Linked DNA regions of Homo sapiens. The protein of the gene in region 1 interacts with the protein of each later gene in a biochemical or structural test. Each region holds a gene or a part of one and is shown in the gene's direction. Other genes may lie near its edges. The genes, in order: ROBO3 and CXCL14.

Region 1 (3,817 bases):
CAAACAAATCTCAAAATCCAGAAGCAGAATGAACATTAACTGAAGTTACCACATAAATAACTCTCTCTAAAGGAAGGGTAGGAATTTTGCTACTGGAAACAGGGTCAGCAAGATAAAGTAAGTATGATGAGCTCCACTCTGTTGGAAAACAAGGCAACCTGCTACCTCATTCCAAATCGACAGCCACAATTTTCTAACATCTTTTCTAGCACCTGGGACTGCTGAATTCTAATTAGATTCTCACATGAATAAAAAGGGTGACGGTTAGTAGGGGTGAAGCAGGTGTTACCCAGGGTCTCAGCATGGTGCCCTTTGTCCTGAGACCCAAACCTGCTTCCCTGTCTAATCTAATGGATTATCTTCCATGGATCTATGGAATGAAAACTGTTCAAGCAGGAAGAAGAGGAATGTGTTTACCACAACGTGTTAGAAGACTTTCATATGATTACTTCATGTGATCTTTATAACTATCCTCTAGAAGTCAAATTTGGGAAATTGGGGCTCAGGCAGGTTAAACAGCTTGTTCAGGGTTTCCCCACTAGTAAGTCACGGAGCTGGGAAGTAGACTCTGAAATTGTCTAATAAAATTCCCTGATGTTTTTGTGAATACATTTAACTACTTTGCCCAAGTTCACATCACTGCTGGAGACAGACGATGAACTAGAATCATAGGAATTCTCTGAATTTTGAGATTGACAGGAATGGGGACCTCTCCCTGCCCAGCTGCCTGCTCATTCCCTACCCTGGTTCCTTGCTCTGTCCCCAGGTCCTGCTTTTCCCCAGTCAGTCACTTCAGCCGACGGGGCGCTTCTCAGTGTCTCCAAGAGGCCAACTTAACATCACCGCGGTGCAGCGTGGGGATGCTGGGTACTACGTGTGCCAGGCTGTCAGTGTGGCTGGCAGCATCCTGGCCAAGGCCCTGCTGGAGATAAAAGGAGGTACGTGCCCATGGAGATAGGACTGGATCCATGGCTTGGGAGGAAATAATGGCCTAAAGTGATGTGTTTCTCTTGGAGTCTATATACTATGTCTGCAAGAGGAGAGATGTGTTCCTGAGGCATGACCTTGAAGTTTGGAAACCAGCAGCAGAAGCCACTAATAATGGCTGGTCCTGGGCAGAGACTTCAGATGATTATCAAAGCCCCCTCTGATCACCGGAAGTTTCAGGGGCTGGGGTAGGGAGGGTGAAGGAGCAGAGAATGAGGACAAGGGGCTGCCCGCGGGGCCCTAAGCTCCTCCCCTGAGGTGCACACGTTCTTCCTCTCTCAGCCTCTTTGGATGGGCTGCCTCCTGTCATCCTCCAGGGACCAGCCAATCAGACGCTGGTGCTTGGCTCCTCCGTGTGGCTGCCCTGCAGAGTGACTGGGAACCCTCAACCCAGTGTCCGATGGAAGAAGGATGGGCAGTGGCTGCAGGGGGATGACCTCCAGTTCAAGACAATGGCCAACGGTACCCTGTACATCGCCAATGTGCAGGTGAGTGTCACCCCTGGGGCCCTAGTAGCTGAGAATGGCTATCTGCTCCACGTTCCTTACACAAGTAAGTACTCACTGGGCCTGTAGCCCCATCTTTACCCCTCTGTTCTCTCAGAGCACCTAGTATCCAACATCTTCCCATCCTTCTGCTACCCGCCTCCACCCCCTCACTGGATCTTGCTCCACTCTCAGTTTGCCAGTGCTCTGCCCTCTCTTCCAGGAGATGGACATGGGCTTCTACAGCTGCGTGGCCAAGAGTTCCACAGGGGAAGCCACATGGAGCGGCTGGCTTAAGATGCGGGGTGAGTTTTTTCTTTCTTCCCTTATTTTGATAATACCTTCCTCCAAACCTGCTTCAACAGGTAGTCGATACCTCCTCAAACTCCGGGATTAACTTTATGTCACAAATGCCATGGTTACGGTGGTGAGGATGAGAAGGACAGTAGTGGTACCCATGGGAGGCAGATGTGAGTAGGGGTTCATATACTATAGCCCACTCTGACCATCACCGCAGCTCAGAGCTCCATAGCTCCCCTGGTAAGGAGACAGGTTACACTAGGATTATCCTTTCCCTATCTTTCTACTTAAAGATTATCTCCCACTGCAGAAGACTGGGGAGTATCACCAGACCCCCCTACAGAACCCAGTTCCCCTCCGGGGGCTCCCTCTCAGCCAGTGGTCACTGAGATCACCAAGAACAGCATTACCCTGACCTGGAAGCCCAACCCACAAACTGGGGCTGCAGTCACGTCTTATGTGATAGAGGCCTTCAGGTATGGAGAAAGTTTTGAATGCAAACCTGGAGAGTTAAAAGGAGGGGATCCTATGCCCTTAGGGTCTTTGCTATTGTGAGGTGGGATTCTCCAGTACCCTCTTGCAAGGGGAAGACATAATGGTCGTTCATAGAGAGTGGATGAGATGGAGTAGGCAGGTTGGGAGTTCCTGGCTTAGACAACCCTGTCATCTCCTTCTTGTTGTAGCCCAGCAGCTGGCAACACATGGCGTACTGTGGCAGATGGCGTGCAGCTGGAGACACACACAGTCAGCGGTCTGCAGCCCAATACCATCTACCTGTTTCTGGTTCGAGCAGTGGGAGCCTGGGGCCTCAGTGAGCCCAGCCCCGTCTCTGAGCCTGTCCGTACACAGGGTAAGGTCAGAGTCCCTGGGCTCATGAGCATGAAATGTAACATCATAAAGCAACCCTCTCCCCCAAAACCATGACACCACGGCAGTTCATACAGTTCTTTCCTGCTATGCCAGGTCTATACTGGTGGCCCGGCCTGGAATAGGAGATCATGTTTGCCTCTCACAGAAGAGACAAGGGAGGAGGAAGGCAGGGAGAGGGGAGGAGGGAAGAAGGAAAGGGAGAGAGGTAGTCATTCATTTTGGCAGCTTCTGACTTCTGAGCCTTTTACCCATAGATAATAATATAGATTATTAAGACTAGAAGGGACCATGGAGGGGCCATCTTCATCTTAGAGATGAGGAACTGAGGCCTTTAAAGGATGCATGTGTAATTATGCTAGCTGGACACCGAGGCCCATGTCTGGAAGCTATTTTCCTGACCAGTCCCCTCCTGACCATGGGGTGTGCTCTGGAGTACTAAGTGGAGCAGGGCAGAGGTAGGACACGAGCACACTCTCAGCCCTATCTCCCTGTCCCTGGTGGCCTCTGCTGAATGGGTTCCTTGGTCAACAGATAGCAGCCCCTCTAGGCCAGTGGAGGACCCATGGAGAGGCCAGCAGGGACTGGCGGAAGTGGCTGTGCGCCTGCAGGAGCCCATAGTCCTGGGACCCCGGACCCTGCAGGTGTCCTGGACTGTGAGTGTGGTATGGGGAGGAGATTCAGGGTGGGGATGATTATGAGGCACATGAGGGCCTCCAAGAGTGAGTATGGGAGAGTGGGAGGTGAGTGGCTGGGGAAGGCGGCATGAGTGGGAGGAGGGGCTGGGCCTGGATGGCCTGGAGGGCCTGTATGGCCCCAGCCTCCCCTTCTGGTGTGCCTTGTCCTGTCTCCCACAGGTGGATGGCCCAGTCCAGCTGGTGCAAGGTTTCCGGGTGTCTTGGAGGGTAGCAGGCCCTGAGGGAGGAAGCTGGACAATGTTGGACCTACAGTCCCCAAGCCAGCAAAGTACTGTGCTAAGAGGACTCCCTCCAGGGACCCAAATCCAGATCAAGGTGCAAGCCCAAGGCCAGGAGGGGCTGGGGGCTGAAAGCCTCTCTGTGACCAGGAGCATTCCTGAGGAGGGTAAGGAGGGCCACCGAACAGATGGATGGACAAGAGGGAAGAAGGGGTGGGGGTGGAGGTGGAGGGGGGATGAAAATTTGCAGGAGGAGAGCAGG
Region 2 (3,224 bases), on another chromosome or scaffold:
AATTATTTTCTATAAATCTGCTGGGAATGAAGCCCTCTTTCTGGTCAAGCCAGGCAGCTCATGTGGCAAAGGCCAGAACTGCGCAGTCCACACTCTGTCACCCTCCAGGCCCTGTGTCATCAAAACTGGCAGAAGGCTAATCCCATGGGCAGGTTATGGAAGAGGCTGAGGGCATCTTGATCTGATTGCTGGGGGATACTCAAACCTTTAGCTCACCTTGCTTCTCCCCTCCACCTGAGCTGCAGCCTGGAAAAGGAGGCACCCACAGGTCTAAACATGGCCCTGCTTTTTTTTTTCCTGAAAATTCCAATAACAAAAGCAACGAGAGCCTCTCACTACCAGGCCTTCTCTCACTTTGCTATAAAATTAGTTCACCCCTCTTTCTTAGAGTGTTGAGGTCCCTGCCCTCCCCACCTCCCTCCCCTGAAACAAGTTGAAAATATCTTAATGAACATAGAACAGTGATAAAGGAAGTGTTTGAAGTCCTCTTTGTACAGAGAGAGAGAGAAAGAGAATGCCAAAGCTAGGTTGGAGGAAGTAGAAGGGTATACGGTGGGCTCAGGCCCATGGGGGCCACACAGAGGAGCTCTGTGCACTTCAGAGACCAGAGCTTCCAGGGAGCTTCTGGCCACCACAGGAAGCAGCCTAGTCAGGCATTTTATTTCAATGGATAATTCAGTGGTCTTACTCAGAAATCAAGAACGAGACAGAAAAGTGATAGGCTAAGTGTAACGTATGGCCCCAGGGCAGCCATGGGGCAGAACTAGAAGAAAGCAAAATATCTAACTGGGCACAGCTTGAGAGGTGAGGGGAAGGTGGGGCTGGGAACGAGTAGAGATGAGGCAATGCAGCCAGGAGCAGGGACTGAGGGGCACAGGCCTCCTGCACCACTGCCCCACCCCACCAACCACCTCTTCTGTCTCCAGGAAGCAGCTTCTAGAGCTAGCATTCTTCTGGAGGACATGCATTATTTGGGCAAAATACAAAGAAATATACAAGCCTAAGTCAAGTAAGGGAATGCCTCCCACCCTTGCTATTTTCTCTAAATAGAGAGGCTGAGTACAGACGCGGAAAGAAACAAGGAGGTGTGGGAGCAGCCCGCCATGCTAGAGAAAGACTACATTCCTGCCACTAACAGTCGGTGGCCACTGGGCAAATCTTAAGTCTGTGGTGCCTCAGTTTCCTCATATGCAAAGCGGGTTTGTTCCATAGGCCTCTGAGGACAAAATGAGATTGCAGAAGTGAGATTGCAGATGGTTAGAAAAGACAAAGCCACACTGGTGTGAGTTTTCATGGTCCCCGGGACCACATCCTCAGAAGGATCCCTCCCACTTCTCCTGGGGGTTCCTGCAGTTCTGGGACAGGGGCATTCCCTGCAGACCAGACGTGAATGAAGCCGCTTAGCCAGCATCTTGTGAACGGCCTGCCTCATGTCCTGAGCCACTTACACATGTGTTTTTTCTCCCCAGGGTCTACGAAGAATAGGGTGAAAAACCTCAGAAGGGAAAACTCCAAACCAGTTGGGAGACTTGTGCAAAGGACTTTGCAGATTAAAAAAAAAAAAAAAAAAAAAAAAAAAAAAAAAAAAAAAAAAAGCCTTTCTTTCTCACAGGCATAAGACACAAATTATATATTGTTATGAAGCACTTTTTACCAACGGTCAGTTTTTACATTTTATAGCTGCGTGCGAAAGGCTTCCAGATGGGAGACCCATCTCTCTTGTGCTCCAGACTTCATCACAGGCTGCTTTTTATCAAAAAGGGGAAAACTCATGCCTTTCCTTTTTAAAAAATGCTTTTTTGTATTTGTCCATACGTCACTATACATCTGAGCTTTATAAGCGCCCGGGAGGAACAATGAGCTTGGTGGACACATTTCATTGCAGTGTTGCTCCATTCCTAGCTTGGGAAGCTTCCGCTTAGAGGTCCTGGCGCCTCGGCACAGCTGCCACGGGCTCTCCTGGGCTTATGGCCGGTCACAGCCTCAGTGTGACTCCACAGTGGCCCCTGTAGCCGGGCAAGCAGGAGCAGGTCTCTCTGCATCTGTTCTCTGAGGAACTCAAGTTTGGTTGCCAGAAAAATGTGCTTCATTCCCCCCTGGTTAATTTTTACACACCCTAGGAAACATTTCCAAGATCCTGTGATGGCGAGACAAATGATCCTTAAAGAAGGTGTGGGGTCTTTCCCAACCTGAGGATTTCTGAAAGGTTCACAGGTTCAATATTTAATGCTTCAGAAGCATGTGAGGTTCCCAACACTGTCAGCAAAAACCTTAGGAGAAAACTTAAAAATATATGAATACATGCGCAATACACAGCTACAGACACACATTCTGTTGACAAGGGAAAACCTTCAAAGCATGTTTCTTTCCCTCACCACAACAGAACATGCAGTACTAAAGCAATATATTTGTGATTCCCCATGTAATTCTTCAATGTTAAACAGTGCAGTCCTCTTTCGAAAGCTAAGATGACCATGCGCCCTTTCCTCTGTACATATACCCTTAAGAACGCCCCCTCCACACACTGCCCCCCAGTATATGCCGCATTGTACTGCTGTGTTATATGCTATGTACATGTCAGAAACCATTAGCATTGCATGCAGGTTTCATATTCTTTCTAAGATGGAAAGTAATAAAATATATTTGAAATGTACCAAAATTCTAGACTGCCACCTTTTTTCTATTTAATTAAGCTAGGATGACAATAAAATGTTTACCATGTCCTGAAAAAATAAGGACAAATATGCTGGGAAAGAAAACTGGTATTTCCCAAATACCTGTCAACACCATCACCTCTGTGGAACGTGTGGAGCTGTCATTACAGTCAGGAAGCCAAGAAGCCAGGCCTTGAGGCTAAGGCTCCTTCCCCGACGATTCCTACCCCTGCAGCAGGTGTATCAGAGCAGGCAGGTTGGAGCACAGGGAACTAGAGGGTCACGATCCCAGCCTCCTCCACGCAAGACCACACTGAGCCTCAGCACCAGAGGGCAGCAAAGAGGCTGGATGCCTCAGCCAAGGGCTCTCCAAGTTCCCTGGGGCTGCATAAGGACGGCAACAATAGAGGACTGGTGTAATTATTGCCTACTGTGAGCCAGACCCTGTGCGGGGAGCCTTACATGCCCTATCTCTTTGAATCCTGGTAACAACCACAACGGGGGTGGTTCTATTGAAGCTCCATTTTACAGATGAGGAAACCAAGGCTTAAAGAGGTGAGCACATCACTC

The links.
Region 2: the proteins of ROBO3 (region 1) and CXCL14 form a complex in vitro, tested with the Homo sapiens proteins (one large-scale study listed by BioGRID).

Annotation. Positions count from the first base shown.
Region 1 is NC_000011.10:124,871,615-124,875,431, forward strand, and holds part of ROBO3 (roundabout homolog 3 isoform a precursor), read left to right. Parts: intron 1-766; coding exon 767-938; intron 939-1,269; coding exon 1,270-1,475; intron 1,476-1,695; coding exon 1,696-1,777; intron 1,778-2,082; coding exon 2,083-2,248; intron 2,249-2,455; coding exon 2,456-2,622; intron 2,623-3,173; coding exon 3,174-3,295; intron 3,296-3,496; coding exon 3,497-3,722; intron 3,723-3,817. UniProt on the Homo sapiens protein: Receptor involved in axon guidance during development. Acts as a multifunctional regulator of pathfinding that simultaneously mediates NELL2 repulsion, inhibits SLIT repulsion, and facilitates Netrin-1/NTN1 attraction.
Region 2 is NC_000005.10:135,570,114-135,573,337, reverse strand, and holds the end of CXCL14 (C-X-C motif chemokine 14 precursor), read left to right. Parts: intron 1-1,469; coding exon 1,470-1,485; 3' UTR 1,486-2,659; downstream 2,660-3,224. UniProt on the Homo sapiens protein: Potent chemoattractant for neutrophils, and weaker for dendritic cells. Not chemotactic for T-cells, B-cells, monocytes, natural killer cells or granulocytes. Does not inhibit proliferation of myeloid progenitors in colony formation assays.